2 linked regions of the Homo sapiens genome follow. The protein of the gene in region 1 interacts with the protein of each later gene in a pairwise test. Each region holds a gene or a part of one and is shown on either strand. Other genes may lie near its edges. The genes, in order: ZNF280A and ENOPH1.

Region 1 (15,770 bases):
GCATCTGCCCAGCAACTGCCTCTCCAACCTTGGACTAGCGTCACCCTTGCTATTGATCTTTGTAGTCAAGGAAAATTATCTCAAAACAATTATGTAATCCTTCTTATCCTTCCTTTAAAAACCTTTGTCTTCCTTTACCTCCCCAAATGCACACATAGGGGCATACATATTTTCATTGCAATGCTCTATTGCCAAACACACATCATTTTCTTTTAAAGAGCTTCTCTCTGTTATTAGGTTGACGTAAGAATGTGCACGCGTTTTGGCTGGGCGTAGTGGCTCATGCCTGTAAACCCAGCACTGTGGAAGGTGGGAGGATCTATTGAGCCCAGAAGTTCAAGCCTGCAGTGAGCCATGATTATGCCACTGCACTCCAGGGTGGAAGACAGAGGAAGGCCCTCTCTCAAAAAACAAACAAACAAAATGTTAGCCTCACAAAGAACCTCTACTGGGGCAGTGTGGAGGGGAAATGTGGGGTTGGAGCTGCCACACAGAGTCCCCACTGGGGCACTACCTAGTGGAGCTGTAGTGGATCCACCCATAGCTTGCACCCTGTGCCTGGAAAAGCCTCAGGCACTCAATGCCAGCCCATGAGAGTAGTGGCAGGGGCTGAACCCCGCATAGCCACAGGGGTGGGGCTGAACCCCGCAAAGCCACAGGGATGGAGCTGCCTAGGGCCTTGGGAGCCCACCCTTTGCATCAGTGTGTCCTGGATGTGGGACATGGAGTCAAAGGAGATTATTATGGAGCTTTAAGATTTAACAACAGCCCTGCTGGGTTTCAGAATTGCATGGGGCCTGTAGCCCCTTTCTTTTAGCTGATTTCTCCCTTGGGAATGGGAATGTTTACCTAATGGTTGTATCCCCGTTGTATCTTGGAAGTAACTAACTTATTTTTTATTTTATAGGCTCATATGTGGAAGAGTCTTGCCTTGTCTTAGATAAGACTTTGAACTTTTGAGTTAATGCTGGAATAAGTTAAGACTTCGGGGGATTATTGGGAAGGCATGATTGTATTTTGACATACGAGAAGGACATGAGATTTGAGCGGGTCCGGGGCAGAATAATATAGTTTGGATGTGTTTGCCCACGGAAATCTCATATTGAAATGTAATTCCCACTGTTGGAGGTGGGGCCTGGCGAGAGGCCACTGGATCCTGGGTGTGATTTCTCATGAATGGTTTAGCACCCATCCCCCTGGGTACTATTCTCCCAATAGTGAGTGAGTTCTCAGTGATCTGGTTGTTTAAAAGTGTGTAGCACCTCCCCTCTTGCTCTGTCGTTCCTGTTTTCACCATGCGACATGACTGCTCCCCTTCACCCTCTGTCATGATTGTAAGCTGCCTGCGGCCTCCCCACAAGTAGATGCCACTATGCTTCCTGTACAGCCCACAGAACTGTAAGCCAATTAAACATCTTGATAAATTACCCAGTCTCAGGTATTTCTTTATAACAATGCAAGAATGACCTAATACATTTAGACTTAGGAGAGATTCTTGTACTTGTCTTACAATAAGAATGATGGGATTTAAAAATATAAATAGGCCAGGCACAGTGGCTCATGCCTGTAATCCAAGCACTTGGGAGGTCAAGGCAGGAGGATCACTTGAATCCAGGAATTGGTGACCAGCTTGGGCAATATAGCGAGACACCATCTGTACAAAAAATTTAATTAAAAAAAATTAAAGTGAGACACTGTGTATTTGTCTCTGTATGTCTGGCTTATTTCACTTAACATAATGCCAACTGGGTTTATCTATATTGTTGCAAATAACAGAATTTCCTTTGATTCTAAGGCTGAATAGTCACCAGGTATGGTGGCTCTTGCCTGTAAGCCTAGCAGTTTGGGAGGCTGTATTAGTCCATTTTCACACTGCTGATAAAGACATACCTGAGCCTGGGTAATTTATAAAGAAAAATAAATTTGATGGACTTGGAGTTCCACGTAGCTGGGGAGGCCTCACAATCATGGTGGAAGGCAAAAGACACATCTTATATGGCAGCAGGCAAGAGAGAATGAGAGCCAAGTGAAAGGGGGAAACCCCTTAGAAAACCATCAGATCTCATGAGACTTACTCACTATCATGAGAACAGTATGGGGGAAACCTCCCTCATGACTCAGCTATCTCCCACTGGGTCCCTCCTACAACACGTGGGAATTACGGGAGCTACAATTCAAAATGAGCTTTGGGTGGGGACACAGCCAAACCATGTCAGAGGCCGAGGCAGGAGGATCACTTGAGTATAGTATATATAAAAATATAAAATGAAGGAAGGGGCCGGGAACAAGGGCTCACACCTGTAATCCTAGCACTTTGGGTGGCCGAGATGGGCAGATCACCTGAGGTCAGGAGTTCAAGATCAGCCTGGCCAACATGGTGAAACCCCATCTCTACTAAAAATACAAAAAATTAGCCGAGCGTGGTGGTATGCACCTATAATTCCAGCTACTGGGGAGGTTGAGGCAGGAGAATCACTTGAACCTGGGTGGCAGAGGTTGCAGTGAGCCGAGACTGCGCCACTGCACTCCAGCCTAGAAGACAGAGTGAGACCCTGTCTCAAAAAATAAAAATAAAAATAAAAATAAATAAAATTAAATGAAAGAAGAATCCCTGGCATGGCACTAAATTTAAATGGAAATATGAGTACACTGTATTTTCTAGGTCTGTCTACTGAAGCAATAACAATTGAGCATACTTAGTGCCCAGATCTTCAATGTTTTTTTAAAATTTTGATTGACAGATGACAATTTGTATATATTTTATGATGTACATGATAAATATATGTGCACACATTGTGTAATGATTAAATCAAGCCAATTAACATATCAATCAAGCCAATTAATATAGCAATCACCTCATATTTATAATTTTGTGATGAGAACATTCAAAATCTACTCACTCAGCAATTTTAAAATATACTATACATTATTATTAATTATAGTCACCATGCTGTAAGACTATATGTTAGGTCTCCAAAACTAATAATTCCTCCTGTTTAACCGAAACTTTGTACCTTTTAGCCTATTCTCCCCATCCTCTACCCGTCCTGACCCTAATAACTACCATTTTACTCTCTGCTTCTGTGAGTTTAACTTTTTTAGATTCCACCTATAAGTGAGACACTGTGTATTGGTCTCTCTATGTCTGACTTATTTCACTTAACATAATGTCATCCAGGTTTATCCATGTTGTTGCAAATAACAGAACTTCCTTTGATTTTAAGGCTGAATTTTAAGGCTGAATAGTGGTAAGGCATGGTGGCTTTTGCCTGTCATCCTAGCACTTTGGGAGGCCAAGGCGGGAGGATCACTTGAGTACAGGCATTTGTGACCAGCCTGGGCAACAAAGTGAGACCTTGTCCCTACAGAAATTTGTTTTTTAATTAGCCAGGTGTTGGTGGCATGCACTTGTGGTCCCAGTTACTTTGGAGGCTGAGGTGGGAGGATTGCTTGAATTCAGGAGTTCAAGGCGGCAGTGAGTTATGATCGTCGTGCCACTGCACTCCAGCCTGGGTGACAGAGGAAGATATTGTTTCAAAAAAAAAAAAAAGAAAGAAAGGCTGAATACCATTTTATTGTGTATACATACCACACTATCTTTATCCATTCATCATGAACACTTAGGTTGATTCCACATCTTGACTGTGGTGAATAGTCCTGCAATGTACATGAGAGTAAAGATACCTCTTTAACATATAGATTTCATTTCCTTCGGATATATACCCAGAAATGGAATTGCTGAATCATATGGTAGCTCTATTTTTAATATTTTGAGGAACCACCGTACTGCTTTCCATAATAGCTATATCATAGCCAGCGCAGGAGAGATGCGGGAGGTGCCACACACTTTAAAACAATTAGGTCTCAGGAGAACCCACTCACTATCACGAGGACAGTACCAAGAGGATGGTACTAAACCATTCATGAGAAATCCACCTCCATGATCCAATCACCTCTCACCAGACTTCATGTCCAACATCAGGGGTTACATTTTGACACGAGATCTGGTTGATTACAACATCCAAACTGTATCAGGGGGCATGTCAAAAAAGACATGGAGAGCAAGACTGCCAAAAGCAGAGAGCAGAAACACATTTCCACCTTCGGGCACCTTCTGATGCTCTTGGATTCCATTTGGGCAGAGTAAGTACTAGCTCTCTGCAGACCCTGGACTAAGGCCTGTGGCTGCAATGAAAAGAACCTTAGGAGGAAACTCAGGAATAAAAACAGAGAAAGTGAGACTTGAGACTGAAATTATGAAACCAAGGAACTAGAAAACCCTGAGAACAGTTGATTAAAACACGGAATGACCGGGAGATCCAGAGTTTCATCAAAGAACGGGAATTACTTTCCTTTTTTTTTTGAGACAGTCTTACTCTGTTGCCGAGGCTGGAATGCAGTGGTGTGATCTCGGCAAACTGCAACCTCTGCCTCCCAGGTTCCAGGTGATCCTCCTACCTCAGCCTCCCAAGTAGCTGGGACTATAGGCACCCACCACCACGCTCAGCTAATTTTTCTATTTTTTTGTAGAGACAGGGTTTCGCCATGTTGCCCAGGCTGGTCTCCAACTTCTGGCCTCCCAAAGTGCTGGGATTACAGGCATGAGCCACCATACCTGGCTAGGAATTTCTTTAATGTGAAGAGTTGAGGAAGAAGAATCATGAATAGTCTAAAGCAATCGACTAGCATCTCAAGCAGTGGGGCATAAAGAAGAGTTGGCAGCACTGTCTCCAGATGGTGATAAGTTTGCAGGACTCCTACTGGACTACTGATGAGGACAAACAGAGACCAAGGAACCAACCCTGGCCCTGTCCTCATGGTTCTACATAGGATTCTGGGATACAGATGGAAGGACAGCGGTTTTTCAGTTTCTCCTTGTGCAAATATGGTTGTTTTTCCAACTCCCAAGTACCAGCCCCAGGTTTGCCATCCCCATTTGCTTTGAGGAACTGCTGTCACACCCCTGTCCATGATCTCCGTGAAAGATCCTCAGGTACCAAGATCGGAGTTCTGGAGCATGAACCGTCCAGGGTCAGCTCCATGCCTGTTTTCTGCTGTTCTCCCAGCAGCCCCCAGTCCCCAGCAGCAGCAGTCAACCTCTTTGGGCTCTGATTCAGATCCCTGAATTTAAAAATAACTAGAACCTAGATCCCAATACTGTCTGAAGGATAATAGAACAGCACAATTGTATGCGCTGGTGCATAACTCCTTCCTCTCTCAGACTGATGTAATGAGAATCAGGTGTGAAATAAATGAATAATCATGACTCTCTCTCTCAAAAAAGGAAAAATAAAGATATGGGGAGCATGGTAAAGGGACTCTCACTTGACATTTGAAGCATCAAAAAAATAATGACAGTATCTGTTTATAACATTTTTAAATAACATAAATCTTCCTGGTGCCACACTGATAGACAAATCAACATTCTTCTTTACAAAAGAATTAATAAATATTGAAGGAATGATAGAATTTGAAAATGGCCATTCATAAAGTAGGAGATTAGACATACTGTCACTCATACGCATCTTTGCATCCTTCACGTCTATTTTTTTTTTTGAGACACAGTCTTGCTCTGTCGCCCAGGCTGGAGTGCAGTGGCGTGATCTCGGCTCACTGCAAGCTCCGCCTCCTGGGTTTGCACCATTCTCCTGCCTCAGCCTCCCAAGTAGCTGGGACTACAGGCGCCCGCCACCACGCCCGGCTAATTTTTTTGTATTTTTAGTAGAGACGGAGTTTCACTGTGTTAGCCAGGATGCTCTTGATCTCCTAACCTCGTGATTCACCCGCCTTGGCCTGCCAAAGTGCTGGGATTAACAGGCGTGAGCCACCACGCCCAGCCTTGACCAACAATATCTTAACTGCTATGTCCCCTACCCAAATCACTGACCTCATCTTTCATCTCCGCTGGTCCTTTAACTGGAGCCACACTTGTCTCTGTGCTCTTCCTTTTTCAGGCCATGAAATGCCTGTGCCTCTGTGTCTTTCTTCTGGCTGGAAAATTCTCCTGATAGTCACCTTTCTTCTCTCCTTCTTTTCTTCCTTTGATGTAACTGTCTCACAAACAGCAATTCCAACTCTGAGTTCATCTGATTAGGCATCTCTTTGTGCATCCCCCAAATTTAACTTCTAGCACTCTGTTTCATAAACACAGCAAGGTGGCATGAGTGATGGTCTGTCCCTGACCTGCATCCATTCCCGACGCGCCATCCATTTCCTATTCTGTGCCTTAAAGCAATAAAGGATTCAAGATTTCAGCCATTTTTTCTTCTTCTTTTTTAATCTTAAGGTCTGCTTCTACCAGTCATTTGAAAAACATATTGTGACAAGCTTTAATCTCATCACTGGAATTCTTTGTTTGGAAAGTGGGGCTGGTCCGAAACAGTCCTGGAGAGTGTTTCCCAGTGGAAACTTCCCAAAGGCAGACTGATAAAGAATCAGCTATGGCTGGGCGTGGTGGCTCACGCCTTTAATCCTAGCACTTTGGGAGGCCGAGGTGGGCAGATTACCTGAGATCAGGAGTTCAAGACCAGCCTGGCCAACATGGTGAAACCCTGTCTCTACTAAAAATACAAACATTAGCCGGGCGTGTTGGCTCATGCCTGTAATCCCAGCTACTTGAGAGGCTGAGGCACGAGAATTGCTTGAGCCTGGGAGACGGAGGTTGCAGTGAGCAGAGATCACACCACTGTACTCCAGCCTGGCCAACAGAGTGAAGTCTGAAAAAAAAGAATCAGTTATGGAGGGCAGGGTGCGGGTAGTTCACGCCTGTAATCCCAGAACTTTGGGAGGCCGAGGTGGGAAGTTTGCTTGAGCTCAGGAGCTTGAGACCAGTTCAGGCAACATAGTGAGACCTCATCTCTACTCAAAAATAAAAGTAAATCAGTTAGACATGGTGGCATCTGCCTATTGTCCTGGCTACTTGGGAGGCTGAGGTGGGAGGATCGCTCGGGTCCAGGACATCAAGACTGCATGATCGTTCCACTGCACTCCAGCCTGGGCAACAGAGTGTGAGACCATGTCTCAAAAAACAAATAAATAAATAAATAAAATTTTTTAAAAAAATCAATGATGAGGATGTTTCACCACATTCTGTGACCTTTGGATGCATTACAGTTAGTTTTCTGCAGAAAAGGAGGATACATTTTATAAGGAAACATAAATGTTTCATAGGAAAGGCATGTATCCTGATGCAAATTTATATTCAGACCATGTGATTTTATTTTTACTAGATTAGTGGGTTAGAATAGCTTGGTTAGAACAGCTAGATGTGGTCTTATTTGGGACTTTTAAAACTGAGCAAAAGAAAATAAGATGCAACTCCGAGCTATTTCTAGACACTCCTCTCAATTTTCTCACCTCCCACAAGCATTGTTGCCACAACCTTCTGTCTCAGGGGAAGGGCCTGCTTTATACCTGAGCCAGCCCCTGACCACTGCCTAGGCTTCCTGGAATCTTCCTAGCAGGATTCTGCTTCTGGAAAAGAGGAAGGAGTGAATATCAGTTCTGCAGAATACACATTTCCTTTCCTTTCTTTCCTTCCTTTTTTTCTCTTTCTTTCCTTCTTTCTTTCTCTGTCTTCCTTTCTTTTTTCTTTTTTTATTTTTTTGAGACAGGGTTTCACTCTGTCACCCAGGCTAATTTTTTGTATTTTCTTGTGGAGACACGGTTTTGCCAGGTTGCCCAGGCTAGTCTCAAACTCCTGGGCTCAAGCCACCTGCCTGCCTCTGCCTAAGCGCTGGGATTACAGGCGTGAGCCACCACGCCCGGCCCCTGTTAGAACTTTACTGTCTAAGTCTTGCACTTCATTTCACTTTGCTTGCTTATTTATTTATGAATGAATGAATGAGACAAGGTCTCTCTCTTCCATCCAGGCTAAAGTATGTGATGCAATCATAGTTCACTGCAACCTCGATCTCCCTGGTTCAAGCAATCCTCCCACCTCAGCCTCCCGGGTAGCTGGGACTACAGGCACGTGCTACAATGCCTGGCTAATTAAAAAAAATTTTTTTTCTTTTGTAGAAACAGAGGTCTTGATATTTTGCTGAGGTTTGTCTGGATTTCCTGGGCTCAAAGATCTTTCACCTCAGCCTTTGATAGCTGGGACTACAGGTGTACCTCAGTAGCGGGCCTCATTTCACCTTCCTTTCCAGGGTCATGCTCTTGGCTACTTGCAATGCCCTCAAGCAGCCTTTCCCCAGTCCCTAGACAAGAATAAAGACCATGGGTCACACACTTTTATACCACCTTGGGCTCTGCCTACTGGGTTCAAGTGATTATTCTGCCTCAGCCTCCCGAGTACCTGGGATTACAGGCACGCACGGCCACGCCCAGGAAATTTTTGTATTTTACTTTATAAAGAATAAGAGACAGGTTTTCACCATGTTGGCCAGGCTGGTCTCAAACTACTGGGCTCATGTGATCTGCTGCCTCGGCCTTCAAAAGTGCTGGGATTACAGATGTGAGTCACCACATCCGGCCCAGAAAGGTATTTTTAAAGTTTTATCAGGAGATGGTACTTTAGAACATTTTAATTTGCAAATGATTTTCGTTTTAATTTTGAGACTTGATTGCATTGCGTTGGAATGGGGGTGGAAATATAAATATTTCTTACCTGTCAAGGGACTCTTGAGGCTCCCCCTCCCCCGCTTTCTAATCTGTGTTGCAAAGCCTGTAAAGAGAGTGAAAGGGTGGGCCTGAAATTCAGCTGAGAAGGTTCCAGGGAGGGGGTAGTGAAGGAGGAGGGAGGAGGGAGAGACAGAGGGAAGGAAGTGAGAGGGCATGGGAGGGAACCAGGATAGACCTTTGACCCCTGGAAATGGATTAAGAAGGGAGTGGGCTGCTGCTTGGAGAAAGCTGTTGAAGACTCACAGTGAGGACCCTGTTTGGACACCTGGAAACTCCTACGGGAGCTCGGTCTTCAAGGGCTGTGAGATTGAGACCCACCCTGTCCCCTGGGGCTCCTACTGGAAAGACATCTGCTTTTCAACTCGCTCACCTCTGAGCTTTGTTGGAACAGACATGTGGACTGCCTCCCACTCCGCATCCCTTCTCATCCCCAATAGCTGAGGGCCCAGGCACACTGCAGAGAAAGTGGTAGACTCTGAACAAGAGAGAGAGGAGGGAGGATGCCCATCACCAGCTCAATCAACCTGGAAGGCAGCCCTGAAGCCCCACCCTCATTCTTTCCTTTGAGTAGCAATTGGAGGAAAACTTTTGGCAATCAAGCTGGACAACAACTGAAAATCCAATCAGGATAAACTGCTTCAGACACGTGACTGGAAAAATGATTGGGCTATAAGGGGCTTAAAAGGAGTGGGACCTTCTGATCTGGCCTCAGAAAGGACTTTGAAGAGCAAGCGGCGTTGTTCGCCTGCGGAAGCAGTGCTGCCGGTCTCTGGACAAATTTCTCCGGGAGGTGGAGACAAGGAAGCTCCAGCTTCGCTTTCCCTTGCGGCCCAGAGTGGAACATACTGAGCTGCACTGAATCATCTGGATGCACTCGCAACTTTAGGAACTGGTGAGCTGAGAAATTTGCTATCTTTCATTTTGCTCCTCTAAAACTAGAGCTGGCAAACTTGTTCTGTGAAAGACTAGATGGCAAATATTTTAGGCATTGCAATTCTCTGCTTCAACTACAGTAGTCTTCCCTTATCCAGGGTATTCCTTTCTGTGCTTTCAGTTACCTGAGGTTCCAAAATATTAATTGGAAAATTCCAGAAATAGGCAATACATAAATTTTAAGTCGCCAGCCCTTCTGAGTAGTGTGATAAGCTCTTGAGTCAGCCCTGCCCTGGGATGGTAATCCTCCCTTTGTCCTGAGTCCCCATGCTGTTGGCTGGCTGCGCTCTCTGTACCTTAGTCACTTAGGAGCGGTCGCAGTTATCAGAGTGACTGTCCTGGTGGTATCTCAGTGCTTGTGTTCAATTAACCCTTATGGTACTTAATAATGGCCCCAAAGTACAAGGGTAGCAATGCTGGCGATTCAAATATGCCAAAAAGAAGCTGTAAAGTGCTTGCTTCCTTTAAGTGAAAATGGGAAAGTTTTTAACATAATAAGGAAAGAAAACAAAATCGTATGCTAAGGTTGCCAAGATCTACAGTACATAAAGATATTTTGTCAGCGAGAGATTGCATTCACATACCTTTAATTTAATTTATTAATTTATTTTTTTGAAACGGAGTTTCACTCTGGCCGCCCAGGCTGGAGTGCCACGGTGCGATCTCGGCTCACTGCAACCCACGCCTCCCGGGTTCAAGTGATTCTCCTGCCTCAGCCTCCCAAGTAGCTGAGATTACAGGTGCTCGCCACTCTGCCCAGATAATTTTTGTATTTTTAGTAGAGATGGGTTTCACCATGTTGGCCAGGCTGGTCTCAAACTCCTGACCTCAGGTGATCCACCCACCTCAGCCTCCCAAAGTGCTGAGGTTACAGGCATGAGCCACCACGCCCTATCTCACATATCTTTTATTACAGTATATTGTTATAATTATTTTGTTATGCTTAACCTCTTACTGTGCCTATTTATAAATTAAGCTTGATCATAGGTATGTACATATATGAAAAAATATAGTATATATTGAATTTGGTTCCATCTGCAGTTTCAAGCATCCACTTCGGGGGTCTTGGAACATATGCCCCAAAGATAAGGGGGTACTACTGTACTCAACTGTGTCATAGAAGTGTGAAAGCAGCCATGGACAACAGCACTAAAAAAATGATTATGGCTGTGTTCCACAACACTTTATGGTGAACACTGACATTTTGAATGTTATATAATTTTCACATCACAAAATATTCCTTTTTTCTTTTTTTTTTTTTTGAGACAGTCTCACTCTGTCACCCAGGCTGGAGCACAGTGGTGCGATCTTCGCTCACTGCAACCTCCACCTCCCAGGTTCAAGAGATTCTCCTGCCTCAGCCTCCCGAGTAGCTGGGACTACAGGCATCTGCTACCATGCCTGGCTAATTTTTGTATTTTTAGTAGAGAAGGGGTTTCACCATGTTGGCCAGGCTGGTCTCGAACTCCTGAGCTCAAGTGATCTGCCCACCTCGGCCTCCCAAAAGTGCTGGGATTACAGGCGTGAGCCACCGCGCCCCGCTTCCTTTTGCATGTTTATTCCCCCAAATTTAAAAATGTACAAGTTTAAAAAAATCTTAATAAAAAAAAAGTAAGAAAACAATACCTTAAAAATGTAAGAAACATTCTTGGCTTCCTGACTGTACAAAAACAGGGGAAGGGCCAATTTTCCAATTTCTGTCTTAAACCATTGTTTGCCAAAATGTAGCTGATATCCATTAGAGAACTACAAAACAAGTTTAGTGTGCTGTCAGCTTACAAAAAGAAATAGGATTTTTCACTGACTATAAGATGCCATCAATTGGCCGGGCACAGTGGCTCATGCCTGTAATCCCAGCACTTTGGGAGGCCGAGGCGGGCGGATCACGAGGTCAGGAGATCGAGACCATCCTGGCTAACACGGTGAAACCCCGTCTCTACTAAAAATACAAAAAATTAGCCGGGCGAGGTGGCGGGCGCCTGTAGTCCCAGCTACGCGGGAGACTGAGGCAGGAGAATGGCGTGAACCCCGCGGGGCGGAGCCTGCAGTGAGCCGAGATCGCACCACTGCACTCCAGCCTGGGCGACAGAGCGAGACTCCATCTCAAAAAAAAAAAAAAAAAGATGCCATCAATTATAAAAGATACATTACTCTCCTTTTTTTTTTTTTTTACATCAGATGTTAAACATGCTGATATAACAAGGTTTGAGGGAAGCACATCTCACATGAGTGAAAACCCAAGCATCACGCTTATCCTCACAAAAGGATCTGAGATATGTCATTTTTGATTCCACTATGAAATAAAAATATATACTGCAAAAACAAATTATGAAATGTATTTTATATTGATGAGATGCTATGATGAGATGCAATCTGATTTAGAGATGTTAAAATGGAAATCTAAGCCTATACCTTAGAATCAATAAAATATGGCATAGAAGGTATCAGAGCCTATCCCTTGTGGTAAGGTGAAGGTATTAGAGTATTTGACAAAACTTTTGTTTCAATTTACACACACATACACACAGGTTTACCTTCTCCCTTGTACAACAGTATTAAATCATTTGGATTTGGATTTCATTAAATGCTTAGAGAATCTGGAATAATGGATTAGAGCCTCTGGTACACCTAAATGATCATATTAATAACAGCTACTATTTATTTAACAAAGATTTAGCATGCACAGTATGACAGACATTGCTCTATAAGCTGAGGAGTAAATGAAACACAACTCCCTGCCCTCGTGTGGCATACAGTTTAGTGGGTAAACACAGAAAAGAAACAAGTTATATTTTTAAATTTTTTGTAGAGATGGGTCTTGCTATGTTGCCCAGGCTGGTCTCGAGCTCCTGACCTCAAGCAATCCTTCCGCCTTGGCCTTACAAAGTGTTGGGATTACAGGTACGAGCCACTGCACCTGTCCCATTTTTTGTTGTTGTTTTAAGACACAGAGTCTTCCTTTCCTCTGTCACCCAGGCTGGATGCAGTGACATGATATATCTCACTGTAATCTCAAACTCCTGGGCTTGCAAGATATATTTTACATATTGTGTGGTAGGCAGTGATAAATGCTAAGTTGAAAAATAACATTGAGGGTTTGAACATATGAGTTAAGGAGGTTGTGATTTTTGATATTGTGGTCAGGTAAGCCTTGCTGAAGAGGAACCATGGGACTGAGGCAGACCAGGAGCCCAGATGGGGTTAATCTGGGGAAAGAGGCACGCAACGTCCGGGAACAACAAAAGTTCTGAAAAAGAAAAAGGCCTGCTGTGTTCCAGATTCACGGAGCTCAGGATGGCTGCATCAGAGCAACAGAGGAGTTAGCAAGGGCGATGATGACCTAAGGTTCCATGGGGAAATTTAAAGTTTGCTGGTATTTCCTATGAATGAAATGGAAAGTCATTGAAGACTTAAGAGCGAAATATACTTGCTCCCCTGTATATTTTAACAGGGGCATTGGGGCCACCATGGGGAGATCTGACAAAACTTTTAAGACTGGCAACTTCTGCAGTGATCCAGGGAGAGAACATGGTACCTTCCATCAGGGAGGTGGCAGTAGATGTGGAAGAGAGTAGTCAGATTCTGGATATCTTTAAAAGATAGAGCAGACTAGCTTTGCTAATTGATTGGCTGTAGTGTATGAGAGAAAGTCTGGCAAAGGATGACTCTGAAGTTTGTAGACTGAGCAACTGAGTTTACTGAGAAAAGGAACATTACAGGAACAGCAAAGGGTGTGTGTGTGTGTGTGTGCTGTGATTTGTGTGTGTGTGTGTTTGTGTGATGGGGTCTCATTTGGTTGCCCAGGCTGGAGTGCAGTGGCATGAACATAGCTTTGAAGTCCTGGGCTCAAGTGTTCCTCTTGGCTCAGCCTCCCAAGTAGCTGGGACCACAGGTGTGTACCACCATGCCAAGCTAATTTTTTTTAATTTTTAAATTTTTTTGTAGAGATGGGGTCTTGCTATGTTGCCCAGGCTAGGAGCAGAATGTTTTTGAGAGAAGTTTTGTTCAAGTTGGTTAGAAACCTTAGACATCTGAGAGAGTACCTGTGGGATGAGGAGGAGGTGAGTGAGGCATCTAGAGTGCAAAATTTAGAGGCAAGCACTCTGAGATGTTCCATCTGCACCTCCTGAAATCTTGCTTCCTTTGCCTCACAACTGCAGAAGACCAGGGGAGGAGAGACAGGTAAATTTGAAATTATTATGCCATTTAAAATGTTTCAAGCCTCATTTCTGACGTGTAAAATAGAGATGTTGATGGTTATCTCAGTGTTTTAAGGGAGGATACAATAAAGTAATGATTTTGTCTTTCGAAATAAATATTGACTATTGTCACATGGTTGCACTTAGGTGGCAATTTGTAAAAAGACAGCTCTGGAAGTTGAAGAGACCAGTGGCTTCAAGCAAAAAGTAAATTGAAAATGGGAGATATCTTTTTGTGTAAGAAAGTGGAATCACCAAAGAAGAATTTGAGAGAATCCAAACAAAGGGAGGAGGATGATGAAGATCCAGATCTGATCTATGTTGGGGTGGAGCATGTACATAGAGATGCTGAAGTTCTCTTTGTCGGGATGATTTCAAATTCAAAACCAGTCGTTTCAAACATTTTGAACAGAGTCACCCCAGGCTCAAATTCAAGAAGAAAGAAAGGCCACTTCCGTCAATATCCTGCTCACGTGTCGCAGCCTGCAAATCATGTGACCTCTATGGCAAAAGCCATCATGCCGGTTTCTCTGTCTGAGGGGCGATCGACAGATAGTCCTGTCACTATGAAGTCTTCATCTGAACCTGGTTATAAAATGAGCTCACCACAAGTTGTTTCTCCCAGTTCCTCAGACTCGCTCCCCCCAGGGACTCAGTGTCTAGTTGGAGCTATGGTCTCTGGAGGAGGCAGAAATGAGAGTTCTCCTGATTCAAAGCGACTTTCCACTTCAGATATAAACAGCAGAGATTCCAAAAGGGTTAAACTCAGGGATGGAATCCCAGGGGTACCTTCTTTAGCTGTGGTCCCTTCAGATATGTCTTCTACAATAAGCACAAATACACCCTCACAGGGGATCTGCAACTCATCAAACCATGTTCAGAATGGAGTAACATTTCCTTGGCCTGATGCTAATGGAAAGGCACATTTCAATCTTACAGATCCAGAGAGAGCAAGTGAGTCTGCCCTGGCAATGACAGACATTTCAAGTCTAGCAAGTCAAAACAAGACCTTTGATCCCAAGAAAGAAAATCCCATCGTGTTACTTAGCGACTTTTACTATGGACAGCATAAAGGAGATGGGCAGCCGGAACAGAAGACTCACACCACCTTTAAATGCCTCAGCTGCGTGAAAGTTCTAAAAAATATTAAGTTTATGAATCACATGAAGCATCATTTGGAATTTGAGAAGCAGAGGAACGACAGCTGGGAAGACCACACCACCTGCCAGCACTGCCACCGGCAGTTTCCCACTCCCTTCCAGCTACAGTGTCACATTGATAGTGTACACATCGCCATGGGGCCCTCTGCTGTCTGTAAAATCTGTGAATTGTCATTTGAAACAGATCAGGTCCTCTTACAACACATGAAGGACCATCATAAGCCTGGCGAAATGCCTTATGTGTGCCAGGTTTGCCATTACAGATCGTCGGTCTTTGCTGATGTGGAAACACATTTTAGAACGTGCCATGAAAACACAAAGAATTTGCTTTGTCTGTTTTGTCTCAAACTTTTCAAAACTGCAATACCATACATGAATCATTGTTGGAGGCACAGCAGAAGGAGGGTCCTTCAGTGTTCCAAGTGCCGGCTACAGTTTTTGACGTTGAAGGAGGAAATAGAGCACAAAACCAAGGACCATCAAACATTTAAAAAGCCGGAGCAACTGCAAGGGTTGCCTAGTGAAACAAAAGTTATTATTCAAACTTCAGTTCAGCCAGGATCAAGTGGTATGGCTTCCGTTATTGTTAGCAACACTGACCCTCAGTCTTCTCCTGTAAAAACTAAAAAGAAGACGGCTATGAACACTAGAGATTCCAGACTCCCTTGCAGCAAGGATTCTAGCTGAAAATATGTTCGACTGACTTCCAGGAGTTCCGAAAGGCAGAAGTGAGGCTAGGCCATATGTGCATTGTGGCTGTAGATGCTAGCAAGCAATGTCATCAACTGTCAGGTTGTTTTTTACAGTGACATCTCATCAGCTCCCTATTGTCAAGAAGTAGCTCCAAAGTCTT
Region 2 (14,920 bases), on another chromosome or scaffold:
GGAGTGCAGTGGCATGATCATGGCTCACTGCAGCCTTGACCTCCCCTAGTTCAGGTGATCCTCCCACCTCAGCCTACCGAGTAGCTGGGACTAGGCATGTGCCACCATGCCCAGCTAGTTTTTGTATTTTTAGTACAGATGGGGTTCTACCATGTTGCCCAGGCTAGTCTCAAACTTCTGGGCTTGAGCGATCTGCCTGCCTTGGACTCCCAAAATGCTGGGGTTACAGGCGTAAGTCACAATACCTGGCCTATTTTTTTTTTTTTAGAGCTGGGGTCTTGCTCTGTGATCCACACTGGAGTGCAGTGGTGCCATCATAGCTCACTGTAGCCTTCAAGTGAACCTCCCGCCTCAGCCTCCTCATTAGCTGGGACCACAGGCACGCACCACCACACCTGGCTATTCAAAAAACATTTTTGTAGAGGTGTGGTCTTGCTATGTTGTCCATACCATATTGCTGATAAATTCTTTTCGTTTGTTTGTTTCTGTTTTTGCTTTGAGACCGAGTCTTGCTCTTTGCCCAGGCTGGAGTGCAGTGGCGCAATCTCAGCTCACTGCAACTTCTACCTCCTGGGTTCAAGCGATTCTCCTGCCTCAGCCTCTGGAGTAGCCGCCTGCCACTATGCTAATTTTTGTATTTTTAGTAGACATGGGGTTTCACCATATTGGCCAGGCTGGTCTTGAACTCCTGACCTCAAGTGGTCCACCCCATCTCAGCCTCCCAAACTGCTAGGATTACAGGTATGAGCCACCCCTCCCGGCCTATTTTTGTTTTTGGAGATAGTCTCACTCTGTTGTCCAGGATGGAGTGCATTCACACAATCTTAGCTCACTGCAACCTCCGCCCTCTGGGTTCAAGCAATTCTTGTACCTCAGCCTCCCAAACAGCGGGGACTACAGGTGCGTGCCACCACACCTGGCTAATTTTTTGTATTTTAGTAGAGACAGGGTTTTATCATGTTGTCCAGGCTGGTCTTAAGCTCCTGAGCTCAGGGCAGTCCACCTACCTTGGCCTCCCAAAGTGCTAGGATTACAGGCGTGAGCCACTGTGCCAGGCCTGCTGAGAAATTCTTTTTTTTTTTTTTTTTTTGAGACGGAGTCTTGCTCTGTCACCCAGGCTGGAGTGCAGTGGCGTGATCTCAGCTCGCTGCAAGCTCCGCCTCCTGGGTTCACGCCATTCTCCTGCCTCAGCCTCCCGAGTAGCTGGGACTACAGGCGTGTGCCACCACGCCCGGCTAATTTTTTGTATTTTTAGTAGAGACAGTGTTTCACCGTGTTAGCCAGGATGCTCTCGATCTCCTGACCTTGTGATCCGCCCCCCCTTGGCCTCCCAAAGTGCTGGGATTACAGGTGTGAGCCACTGCACCTGGGTGTGAAATTCTTAAGGATTTTAGGCCATTGCCTGCTGTAAACCCTAGGATCCAAGATTGTTTCCAGCTGCATATATTTCTTTTGTGTTTCTGTCAAATGAGATGTTGTTTCTTTATTTATGTACTTTACGAGGAGCTTCTACCTTTTAAAGGATGGACTGGAATTTCAGGATATGCCAGTGATCTGGGAATATCAGCCAGGTTCACTTTGTAAAGCACTCAAAAAAGTGGAGACAGGAGACTGTGCACCCGGTAGTTAGCCCATACTTCTCTTGGTCTTGGTTCCTTAATTATACAACTAACTGCTGAAGACAGGAAAAATCCTGTCTCCATGAGTGCAAACTAGTACTCAGAATAACATACTTACATGTGTACTGGTTTTGAATACGTTGATCTCTTTCCTTCAATTAGTGCAACATGTTAAGCATGTTAATACATATAAAGCGGAAGACTCCACTGACATTTTCCAGGTAATCTTTTAGAGATGACTGGTTCTACAACCCAAGTTCTTTGTGCTTCTCTTTTCACCTTTCTCCTGTGATGTTAATTTCCTCCATGACTATGGAAAACACTAGAATTGGTAAGAGAGACTGAGTGTCAGAAGTCAGAAAAAGACATCTTTTGCTGACTGGTTAATGTGAGTTGGTACAAGTCTCAACTGACTTGTTATGTAATTTTTTCCCCATATAATAAAACATTGTTTTCTTAGTTCTCAAAAAATGCAGGCCGGGTGCAGTGGCTCATGCCTGTAATCCCAGCACTTTGGGAGGCTGAAGTGGGGGGATCACTTGAGTCCAGGAGTTTGAGACCAGCCTGGGTGACATGGCAAAGCACCATCTCTACAAAAAATTAAAAAAAAAAAAAAAAAGCTGGGGGTGGTAGCACATGCTTGTAGTCCCAACTACCTGGGAGGCTGAGGTGGGAGGATCACTCGAGCCCAGGAGGTAGAGGTTGCAGTGAGCTGAGATCATGCCACTGCACTCCAGCCTAGGCAACAGAGCAAGACCCTGTCTCAAAAAAAAGTAATTCCATTTTCTAGCTAATCATAAGTTTATAGCTTTGAGCCTTCAAACTTTGTTTTGATTATTTTGGGTGCAGATCTTTCTAAAAGCATTTCCATGCTTTCTTAAAGCACAGTGGACATAATTTAACCTTTTCTTGTCATGAAGAACATCAAAGATTATATTATATCATTGCTGTTGTTTGCTTTTTTGAGTTCTTCGGGAATTTAAAAAACACTTTCCCATTTCATCCTTTTATCTGTAGTCCCTTTTTACTGTCACTAGTGGCTGTCTGTTCAAAACTATCCTCCTTTCCACATAGATTGTTGCTTCTAATCTGCTGTGAGCCTGGAACTTGGGCAGTATGTTTATTAGAACTGCAGGAGTTTGTAGTCTCAGGGAGCTGCTTCTCAGGTTACCATGTGGGCACAAAGAGAGAAACATATGGCATCTGTTTTGACAGGTTTTTATCTGGCTAGATGAGGTGTTCCTGTATTTTAACTTAGTGGTCTTCCCTCTAGGTTCTTTGCAGATGTAGTTCCAGCAGTCAGGAAGTGGAGAGAGGCCGGAATGAAGGTGTACATCTATTCCTCAGGGAGTGTGGAGGCACAGAAACTGTTATTCGGGCATTCTACGGAGGGAGATATTCTTGAGGTAGGTTACCTAGTTTACTTTGTTGTTTTGACGCTATCAAAGCATAAAATAATGAATCTTAATGGAAAACTAATTGGAACTAATAGAATGCTTTTTTTTTTTTGGTTGTTTAAAATTAGGTAAGAAGAAAATAATCACTTTTAATTATATTGTATTTACAGTTTCTTCTATATAAGGTTGTTATATAAAGTTTATTCTGTGTCTTGAAAAATAAAATCAGTTAGGATGCAAAATAGGATTGTGCAGTCCTGAGAAATATATAAAGACTTTTTGAATACAGCAGAGAACAAGGTGCACTCATTTGTTTCTGGCTCTTTGAAGAAATATAGATTTCATTTAAGAAGAACCAGCATTATTATAGGAGAACCAGGCACATTTTTAAATGTAATAAGGTCGTCACCTGTTGCATTTCATGTACATGAGAAAATTCTTGCTAGCCCCTCTGTGTCATCATCCCTGCACCCCCTGGAGGATGGGGTGATCAGTGAAAGAAGTGACTACATTTAGGGTTTTAAAAAGAAGTGCTGATTAGCTGAATATAGACCAAACTTAACAATAGGTAACTTGGAATATAGACTTAACTTAAAATAGGTTACTTACAATAGGTAACTTGACCAGATACTTTTTAAAAATAAATATTTACCGGCCGGGCGCAGTGGCTCACGCCTGTAATTCCAGCACTTTTGGAGGCCAAGGTGGGCGGATCACGAGGTCAGGAGATCGAGACCATCCTGGCTAACATGGTGAAACCCCGTCTCTACTAAAAATACAAAAAAAAAAAATTAGCCGGACGTGGTGGCGGGCACCTGTAGTCCCAGCTACTCGGGAGGCTGAGGCAGGAGAATGGCTTGAACCCAGGAGGCGGAGCTTACAGTGAGCTGAGATCGTGCCACTGCACTCCAGCCTGGGCGATAGAGTGAGATTCCATCTCAAAAAAAAAAAAATTTACTTATTTTAACTTACAATAGGTAACTTGAATATAGACCGAACTTATAATAGGTTACTTACAATAGGTAACTTGGCCAGACAAGTTTTTAAAATAAATATGTATTGAGCACCTACCATGTGCAAAGAACACTTTGGCTTTGGAGGTTGTAATATTCTAATTTTAGTATTTTCCTACTTTCTGTCTTATTTTTAAATCAAATATTAATAATGAAACCCTTTAATCATTGGTGACTGTTCTCTTAATACAGATACAACTTCTTTTCTGCTCTCTCTGACAATCATGACAGGACAAAAGTACCTACTGAGTTCACTAATAAGAATTTTACTCTCTAGTTACCAAGTGAGGCAAACTGCAAGAAAAAGAAAATAAGCAAAATCAGTTTTAACTTTAAAAAAAAAAAACTTAAAATTACTTTTTTTTTTTTTTTTACCTTCCCATTGGCCAAACCCAGTTTGAGTGCTTACTATGCTTGTTTTTAGTTTGTGAAAAGTTCTGAAAACATTCAAAAGATCACATCTTAGTAACTGACCCTAAATATGGACTTATTTTAATTACTGTTGGTCAAATTAGCAAGTTACAGATTTGACTCCAATTGTTTCCAAGAGGGCAGAGACATAGACGAGCCCTTGGGTAGAATTTCAAAACGTTTTAACTAGAAAATGAGAATTTCTTGTAAGTAAAATAATAGCTTATTCATGAGGCAGGTTAGAGAAATTTTTTCATCGTAAGATTAAAGGACAGTGTTCAGAATCTTTCATCAGGAGTAAAATTCAATCCAGTGAGTAGTTTGAGTGCAAATCATCTTTAAGGGTAGGATGTAGGGCATGTTTATTTTAAACTATTTCAGATGTAAAATGAACGGTAGTGAAAACCAGGTAGATTATGAAATGATCTTATGTATGTTGAGCTGGTAGTTTTCTTCTTCCAAATGTCTGTTGCTATAAAATCTTTATTTTTACTTTGTATAGCCTCCATAAAGTTCCCTATTAAGTAGATTTTCAGAAAATACTGAACGAATGAAGTAATTGTGATTGTCATGTATTTCAGAGAAAGGCATGAGGGGCATGCAAGTGTATTTGTATTGCCAGTCTTTCCCCTTCTCTTTGTTCAGCTTGTTGATGGTCACTTTGATACCAAGATTGGACACAAAGTAGAGAGTGAAAGTTACCGAAAGATTGCAGACAGCATTGGGTGCTCAACCAACAACATTTTGTTTCTGACAGATGTTACTCGAGGTGAGTAATAGACTTCTTATATTATATACTCCAGGATATGAACTGAGCCTGGCACTACAAATACATTGCCTCTTTAAAGAAACTTTATATGGGGATCCTTGAAAAATAAAACAGTTTTACGGTTTTATATAAAGAAACAGTGTCTGGTTCAAGTTCATGTTTGAATTAAAAAAAAAAAACACAGCAGTGAAGGCAGGCTTGGTGGCTCATGCCTGTAATCCCAGCACTTCTGTGGGCTCAGGCAGGAGGATTGCTTGAACCCAGGAGTTCGACACTAGCCTGGGCAACAATGTAAGACCTCTGTCTCTACAGAAAAATTCAGAAAGTTAGTTGGGTATGATGGCTCACTCCTGTGGTCCCAGCTGCATGGGAGGCTGAGGCAGGGGCATCAGGTGAGCCCAGGAGGTCGAGGCCGCAGTGAGCCGTGTTTGTGCCACTGCACTCCAGCCTGGGTGACAGAGCAAGACTGTCTCAAAAAAGAATGAACCAACTCTGGGGGTTGCATGTGGGGAAGTGGCATTGAAAAGACTAACTCTTCTCGTTTAACTCCTTGTCCGTGATTTCCCAGCCATCGCTATGTACACACACACACACACTATGACACAGGAAATTAACAGGAAGACTTAGAGGAGTTGTCATGGGAAGGAGCATGCAAGCGGGGTTGTGAGTATAAGGGGTAGGTAGTTGAGCCAGCCAGTTCTGGGATTAAATGCACAGTTCCATTTGTGATCCCCGGACCTTTGCTCTATCTCAATATTAAGAATTATAACCCCTGTCCTTAGACCACTTATAGTTTCTTCATATTCTTGTGTTTAGCCACTTAATTTTTGTATTTGGGATCACATAGTACATCTATAATTTCAGATCTTTCTCTTCTCATTTAAGCCATTTCCTCAGTTGCAATTGTAGAAATTATTCCTAATTTTGGAGAATAGAAATAATCCCTAAATTGGCTTCAAAATGAAATTAGCTCCCTTTGATTCTCTGTAAGGAGGTTTTATTCCTGCCCTTCATCTTCTGCTGGCCCCATACACACTTAGGCCAGAACTTGGGTCATCGGCAGCTGGGATGAGGCAGGGAGCTGTCTGCCTGCTTGCTCTTTTCTCTCTGGTCCTGTTTTGGTACCACATGCCCAGACTTCCACTGCTGAGGCAGAATGAAAAACTAAGTTAATATCCCAAATAATGGCTGGGCGCGGTAACTCACACCTATAATCCTAGCACTTTGGGAGGCCAAGGTGGGTGGATCATTTGAGGTCAGGAATTCAAGACCAGCCTGGCCAACATGGTGAAACCTTGTGTCTACTAAAATACAAATATTAGCCAGGCAGTAGTGGTACACGCCTGTAATCCTGGCTACTCGGCTGGGGGCTGAGGCAGGAGAATTGCTTGAGCCTGGGAGGCGGAGGTTGGGATGAGCCGAGATCATGCCACTGCACTCCAGCCTGAGCGACAGAGAGAGACCCTTCTGAAAAAACACAATAAAATAAAAAATAAAATCCCAAATAATACCCAAGTATGAAAAAGTGTCTCAGCATTACAACAGTAGAGCAAATAGATGCTTAGGGATAAAACTTGCCCTGCAGTGAATTAGATAAAAAGCCTGAATATGGAACGGCCACTTGTAGTGTCAAGTCCCATGTGGATTGTGATGGCTTAACTTGGTCATATTCCCGGGTTGCCAGTCACGATGAAAACTTTGCTCAGGGCAGTCAGGCTAGGAAGTAGGGGTGAGTGGAAGATAGCTGCCTTTCTCCAATGGCATCTGCAGAGGTGGTCTGAAGAAGACATTCCCACACAGAGAGGGGAGTCTTGAGTACTGTTTGCTCTGGGAAAGTGACAGGCCCTTTCACAGGCAGAACAGAAAGCAGGCACTTGAGGAGGTGGGTGGGTGGAAGAAACAGCTCAGCCCCAGTGTGTCTCCTGGGAACTTAACTCTCTCAGCACGACTGCCCTTCAGTTAATCTGTTCAGGTGCTGTGACTCTTCTCCAAAGGCTGAGAAACTAATGGTGATTACTCTTACACCAAATCTAAATTCCACGGGATTTATATATATATATTCCAGATTTCTCACCAGTTTTGTTCTATCTGTCCTAGTAAGCGCCATCTCTCTTATCACAGGCCTGTATCCCATTTCCCACTCTAACTTGCTCCATTCTAGGCTGGGAGTATGACATGTTTAGGGTCTGGAGGTAAGAGCAGATATCTTGGGCTGATTAAACCATAGGATTCCATTTGTCCCATTATCTTCTTTGTGTTTTTATTTTTTTGATACAGGGTCTCACTCTGTCACCCAGGCTGGAGTGCAGTAGTGCGATCTCGGCTTGCTGCAGCCTTGACCTCCTGGGCTTAAGCAATCCTCCCACCTCAGCACTCTTGAGTAGCTGGGACTACAGGCACACGCCACCACGCCCGGCTAATTTTTGTATTGTTTTGTAGAGATAGAGTTTCACCATGTTGCCCAGGCTGGTCTCGAACTCTTGGACTCAAGTCTGGCGTTCAAGTGAACTCCTGGGTCCACCGTGCCCAGCCCCATATCATTTTAATTCGTGTTACCAACAGCTTGTCCTTTGGGAAACAGCTCAGTTCTCGGTATGGGCTGATGGGAGGAAGTGGAGGAAAGGTGTAGGACAGAACATGGCTCCATCCTTCTGCATTCATAAGTACTTAATAAAGCTCAGAAGTGTAGGATACACTGCCATTCTCTTCTGTCAAGTACAGTTACGTATTTTTTAAAATTTTATCATGGAAAAATTAAAACATACATAAAAGAGATAATAATATAGTCAACCCCAGGGTGCCCATCTTTTAGCTTCAACAGTCATCAAATCAGGGCCAAATTCATTTCTTCCATCCCCACATCCCCCTGCTGACTTTGCTGCAAATCTCAGACATCATTTTTTGGTGTTTCTGACACACACACATCCTTTGATTTTTCACAGAGGCCAGTGCTGCTGAGGAAGCAGATGTGCACGTAGCTGTGGTGGTGAGACCAGGCAACGCAGGATTAACAGATGATGAGAAGACTTACTACAGCCTCATCACATCCTTCAGTGAACTATACCTGCCTTCCTCAACCTAGAGAAGGGTTGTTAAGGCAGACCGCCCTGTTCCCCAGAGTTGTCCCTGTAGTGTCTAGGTTTATTCTAATGGTAAAAGTAACTTACTTAAAAAACATATGTACACATATGTATGCAAGTATGTATATATGTGTATGCTCAGATTAACTTCCATAGGTACATAAGTGAAAGAAGTCTCAGTTCAGTGAACACAAAACTTATTTAAAGATGCTTTATATGTAGAAATTGTTTCAAATCATACTCTAACCCTTAGTGAGGGCAAAGTGTAGTTGGTAGAAGAAATTGCTAAATACCTATCTAATGTGCTATGTTTATCAAATCGTGTACTAAAATGGAAAGCTAGTTTTGAGAAATTATTCAGAAGCCTTGTTATTTTAAAAATGAAATATTTCAAAGACTGAATATTTTCAAAGAAAATGAATAATTCATTGCCCTTGTGATTTAGAAGATTATAACAGCTGTATTTCATATTTGCCTCCTTATATATATCAAAGACCAAGGTATTTCCTTCTGCTTCAAAAGAACAAAATTGGGAAAGAAAACTCACTTGAGTCTTGATCAAACAAGTGTCTTTTACTTAAGAAGAAACTTGGTAATCATTGTGGCACCCACAGCAAGCAGTTGCCTTACCAGTGAAAAAGGTGCACTGAGGTAACATCTAAAACAGAGATGTGGTTCTTAATGTTTAACAGAACAGTTCTAATCCTGCCACGTGTTATCATTATAGATTTTATAGTTGCCTTTCTAACTACTTAGCACAGTTTGAGAATACGTTAATTGCTATTTACTATTTAAAAAGTTTTACTGAAATCAGTCCATAACATTAAGATGAGCCCTAATATGTAAGATTTTCCTCTGGAATGGATGTGAGAAATGTAAATTTTATAACAGCAGTATTTATCCTGGTTTAATTCTAATACGATGTCATGTTAATTTCATGTTGTGATTAATAAAAGCATTTTTTCTTCACTCAGTTTTATATAGGTTCCTGAACTCTATCCACATGCCGCCATAGCAAAAGAGAAACTGAAAAACAAGAATATTTAGCTCTTATCTTAATCGTGTATCATGTGTGTGTTTTAATGGAGTGCCGGTGGCAATTCATGGTTATTATTTGAGTTATGTATACATATAAGGTTACTATTCCATTTGGATAGTAAGCATTCAGGATATGAGTGGAGTTCCTTATATTTTTGAGAATCTTAACTTTGAGGTCTCTAAGGTAATGCTTGAAGGAGGGAGTTACTCTCCTAACTAATCAAGAAAAACTCACGAATCCTGGAGGAGCAATTTTAGAAATGCTTTGAATAAGGAAAAAGAAGTCTTAGAACTATGAGAGGACAGGGGATATAAAAGATTTTATGTTGATAATTTTGATCTAGTAGCCAATTAAGAAATCTAGGGTCTATGAAAATATATGAATAAAAAAGAAAGGAAATGAGTTTAGGTACATCTTAGAAATGGGAATAATTTGTAAATGATGATAAAACCACAAATAGTAATAAAAGGATGAACTTAATACCTTTTTTGGAAAGCTCATAGGCAGATGGCAGAAAGGGGTATATCTTAATGTTATTTAAGGAGTAGTTGGAAAATGAAGAAATGAGAAGATTAGGCACTAGGATCTAGATTAGAAAGGAATTGAATAAAAAGGAAGGCACACAGCATCTAGCCAGCAAAGGATTGAGGTGGAGAGGCATTTTACTACCCATGTACACTGAGTAAGGAGGACAGAAAATCAATAGATTTCAGGAATTAAGAGAAAATTGAAGTATCAGATTTATTTTGCAAAGTAAGGGAAAAACTAGTTGAATGGAATCGTTTTTAGATCCTAGGAAAACCATTCACAAATGATGGAGAAAGGTCGTAGGAAGAATTTGAAAGATAAAGTAGATTGGCAAGAGAGGAAAAATACCTATCTAAGAATGTAAGCAGTGATACACAATGTATACATGTATTGAAACACCACAGTGTACCCCATAAATATGCACAGTTATGCATCATTAAAAAACTTTTTTTAATGTGGATAATGAGCTAGAAGATGAAGTCAGATGAATTCATAGTCCTTATGAGGGGAAGGAAGGCAAAAAACCTCTGGAACTTCCAAAAAGAGGACAAAGGCCTCAGCCTCTTGTTTGCAGAGAATATGGAGGACAAAAGCGTCTTAAAGTTGTGGCTCTTTTTATTCCTGTTTATTAATCCAGATGTACCTCTGTTGTTCTCTTTCCTACAGTGGCGCTGATTTCTAATCTTGGGTCAAAGCCCAGGTTGGTTTTTTAGAAGAGAAGCCCTTAACAGAAGATTCTCTAATCTTATCAACATTTCTGGAGTAGCAGGACTTCTTTTTGGTCTGGAAAGCGGGTTTTAGTTGCTACGCAGAATGTCAAATGTGTAGTTGCACAAGGAAAGGTTGAAAGCCACTGGCTTATTGCCAGGGCAGATGCACGGCAGCCTTTCCCCAGCAGATGGTGCTGTTTCTCCAGACTTGATATGAAGTGTGAGGCTCCACCCCTCCTCCCCCCCTCCCCCAACCCCCGCCCCGTCGCCCGCCAAATACAGCAGATGGAGCTAAGAGAGAGAAAACTATATTTTGTTTATCCTTACAAGCCAAAAGCTTGATGTTGCAAGAGTTGGAGTAGTTTGGAAAAAATGGCAGTAATCCTGAATGAAATCCAACTATCTAATATTCCTTTTCCTCAATAAAAAATTAGTGATTTTTAGCCCCTTTTTCCAGCGGCAGTGTTAAAAAGGGATTGTTTTCAGGGCTTTTTTTATTCCCACGAGTACAAAGTTGAGTATAATATATTCCAAAAGTTTGTTAACCTACCACCTGTGCCCAGATGGCAAAGTGATATTATCCTCAACCTAATATTTAAGAATAACGTGGAGTTTTTACTAAAACACTTGGAGTAACTGACAGAAGTAAAATTTCTACCTTACAAATTCAACCCAAATTTATTCCTTAAATATTTATTAAGCATTTACCTTGCATCCCAGATCTGCTATGAGGGGACAAAGTTCCTCTCTACTCCCATTGTGCATACATTTTTCGAGAAGAGAAACAATGGTGACTAAGACAAGAAAAAATTAGATACTAGTAAGCGCTCTGCAGAGAACACAGGGTAGAATAACTTTACAGGAGGGGTGATGAGAAGGTGACATCTAATCTAAATGACATGGAAGACATGTAGGAAACTAGGAGAACTGGTGTTCCATGCAGATGGAACAGCATAGCACAGATCTAGGGCAAAGCTTGGCCTTTTTCAGGAATTGAGAGCCCAGTGGCTGGATACCATCAGAGAAGTGGGCTGAAGCCAGATGATAGTGCTTTGTACTCCAGTAAGAAGTTTGAATTGTATTCTAAGTATGGTAAAAAGCCCCTGGAGGACTTTGAGCAGAAGATAACCTGAGTGGTTTACATATTTAAGGAATTCTGTATGGAATGGAGAATGGTTTATAAGTGGGCATGACTGCATGCAGGAAGGTGAGTTAAGTATATCAGGGTTGAGTGCTGCAGGCAAAAATCACAAGGAGTTAGGTGTATACAACATCAGTGGAAGAACTGGGAGAAGAGTCAGGGCAACTACCACTGGACTGTGGAGTTAGAGGACACCTCACAGTGGTTAGCTCAGGAAGCCTGCTACCATTGCCACTGTAGCTCATGCCCACGACGCTGGCCAGACTCTGGAATGCCAGGCCCCATTGCTGCAACCTCTCCAAACAGAACACTTCCATCTCTTCTCCAATTAGGGGGTAAAATTGGCACTTGAGAGAGTCAATCTACTGGGTCTGAGAAGGCTGTTGTAGTAATGAAGGTAAGGGATGGTGGTGGCTTGCCTTAGGGTGGTAAAAGCAGAAATAGAAGTGGAAAGATTCAGAATAGGTTTTAGACATGACAGTGACCACTTATTGATTGATTGGATTTGAAAGGGTAACTCTTACATTTTTAGCTTAAGCAACTGGATAGATGATACTACTGGAAAAATAGCAGTGCTGCTGATAATAATGTAAAGCCAATGTAGATCCTGATGTCAACATGACCGAAGAGCAGTTGGATATAAGTCTAGAGTTCAGAATGCTGGCCTGGCTGGAGATCAGATTTGAGAGTTCACTGGCATAGAGATGCTATTAAAAGCCATGGGATGGGGTTGCTTAGGAAGAGTCTGTTGATAGAGAAGAGAGCCTAAACAGCCCGTAGGCTCCAACACTAGAGGTCAAGCCAAGCAAAGAAACCAGCAAAGGAGATGGGAAAGTATTGGGCACTGAGGAAGGAAAACCAGGAGAGTGGCAGGGGAGCCCATTAAAGAAGGAACTATTCAAATTTATCAATTGCTGCTAAGAATTCAGTTGAGAATAGCAGTGGCCCTGCAGTCTAAGTGGAGTGGTGGGAACAGAAGTAAGATTAAGTTGAGGAGGTCAGGAGGGCCTATGAGGTCTAGCTAAAGATTTATCCATTTTGTTGATCTTTTTAAAGAAGAACATTTGGTTTTGTTGATTCTCTATTTTGTTTATTTCCACTCTAATCGTATTTCCTTCTGCTTGCTTTGGGTTTAATTTGCATTTCTTTTTCTAGTTCCTTAATGTGGAAACTTATGTAATTGCTTTGTGAGTTTTTTTTTTCTTTTTTTTTTTGAGATGGAGTCTCGCTCTGTTGCCCAGGCTGGAGTGCAGTAGTGCAATCTCAGCTCACTGCAACCTCCGCCTCCTGGGTTCAAGCGATTCTCCTGCCTCAGCCTCCCAAGTAGCTGGAACTACAGGCACCTGTCACCACGCCTGGCTAGTTTTTGTATTTTTAGTAGAGACAGGGTTTTGCCATATTGGCCAGGCTGGTCTTGAACTCCTCACCTCAGGTGATCAGCTCGCCTCGGCCTCCCAAAGTGCTGGGATTCCAGGCGTGAGCGACTGTGTCCGGCCATTTTCTTTTTTTTTTTTTTTAATGTAGGCATTTACAGCTCTGAGTTTCCCTCCGAGCATTATTTTCACTGTATCCCATAGGTTGAGGTATGTTGTGTTTTTGTTTTCATGTGTCTCAATATATTTTCTAATTTCCTTTGTGATTTCTTCCTTCACCCATTGGTTGTTTAAGTGTTTAATTTCCACATATTGTGAATTTTCCAAATGTCCTTCTGTTACTGATTTCTAATATCATTCCCCTATACTTAGAGAACATACTTTGTATGATTTTGATCTTTTAAAATTTAACAAGACTTTTCATGGCCTAACTTATAGTCTATCCTGGAGAATATTCTTTGTGCACTGGAGAAGAATTTAAATTCTGCTGTTATTGGGTGGAGTGTTCTGCGTGTATGTCTATTAGGTCTAGTTGGTTTGTAGTGTTGTTTGAATCTTCTGTTTCCTTGTTTACATTCTGTCCAGTTGCTCTATTATTGAATGTGAAGTATTGAATGCTCCCTCTCTTTTGTTAAATTGTCTATTCTTTTCTTCAATTCTCTTTAGCTTCATCTATTTTGCTGCCCTGTTGTAAGGTGTGTATATGTTTATAATTGTTATAGCTTCTTGCTAGCTTCTTTAACATTATAATGTCCTTCTTTGTCTCTTGTAACAGTTTTTGTCTTAAAGTCTATTTTGTCTGGTATTACTGTAGCCACTTCACCCTCTATTTACATGGAATATCTTTTTTTTTTTTTTTTGAGTCAGGGTGTCACTCCGGGGCCCCAGGCTGGAGTGCAGTGGCAAGATCATAGCTTACTGCCTCAATCTCCCAGGCTCAAGCGATCCTCCCACCTTAGCCTCCTGAGTAGCTGGGACCACAGGTGTGCGACCTCACACCTAGCTAATTTTTGTATTTTTGTAGAGATGAGGTCTCACTCTATTGCCCAGGCTGGTCTCAAACTCCTGGGCTCAAGCTATCTGCCTGCCTTGGTCTCCCAAAGTGTTAGGATTACAGCCCGGCCGAATTTCTTTTACCATCCTCTTTCTATTTATTTCTGTCCTGAATCCAAAATGTGTCTTTTATAGGTAGTATGTAATGGATTATGTTTTCAATTCATTATGCCAGCCTCTGCCTTTTAATTGAAGAGTTTAAGCCATTGACATATAATTACTGACAAGCACTTAATTCTGCCATTTTGCTATTTGATTTCTATATATATATATATGTATTTTTTTTTTTTTTTTTTTTTTTTTTTTTTTTGAGACGGAGTCTCGCTCTGTCACCCAGGCTGGAGCGCAGTGGTGCAATCTCAGCTCACTGCAACCTCCACCTCCCAGGTTCAGGCGATTCTCGTGCTTCAACCTCACGAGTAGCTAGGGCTACAGGTGTGCACCACCACACCTGACTAATTTTTGTAATTTTAGTGGAGATGGGGTTTTGCCATGTTGGCCAGGCTGGTCTCGAACTCCTGACCTCAGGTAATCTGCCTGCCTTGGCCTCCCGAAGTGCTGGGATTACAGGCGTGAGCTACCATGCCCAGCATTGTCATCTCTTTTAATATATATTTTTGAATTTTTTTTTAGTGATTTCCCCTGAGGGTACAATTAACATATATTTATAACATTCTAGTTCTGATTAATACCACCTTAGTTTTTGTTTGTTTGTTTTAAGATGGAGTCTCACTCTGTCCCCCAGGCTGGAGCACAGTGGCATGATCTCAGCTCACTGCAGCCTCCC

Evidence for each region.
Region 2: the proteins of ZNF280A (region 1) and ENOPH1 interact in binary tests that used the Homo sapiens proteins (3 or more experiments, as listed by UniProt).

The regions. Positions count from the first base shown.
Region 1 is NC_000022.11:22,513,836-22,529,605, reverse strand, and holds the start of ZNF280A (zinc finger protein 280A), read left to right. Parts: upstream 1-9,335; 5' UTR 9,336-9,517; intron 9,518-11,730; exon of another isoform or gene 11,731-11,826; intron 11,827-13,904; 5' UTR 13,905-13,975; coding exon 13,976-15,604; 3' UTR 15,605-15,770. UniProt on the Homo sapiens protein: May function as a transcription factor.
Region 2 is NC_000004.12:82,451,830-82,466,749, forward strand, and holds the end of ENOPH1 (enolase-phosphatase E1), read left to right. Parts: intron 1-2,892; coding exon 2,893-3,025; intron 3,026-5,085; coding exon 5,086-5,209; intron 5,210-8,151; coding exon 8,152-8,291; 3' UTR 8,292-9,348; downstream 9,349-14,920. UniProt on the Homo sapiens protein: Bifunctional enzyme that catalyzes the enolization of 2,3-diketo-5-methylthiopentyl-1-phosphate (DK-MTP-1-P) into the intermediate 2-hydroxy-3-keto-5-methylthiopentenyl-1-phosphate (HK-MTPenyl-1-P), which is then dephosphorylated to form the acireductone 1,2-dihydroxy-3-keto-5-methylthiopentene (DHK-MTPene).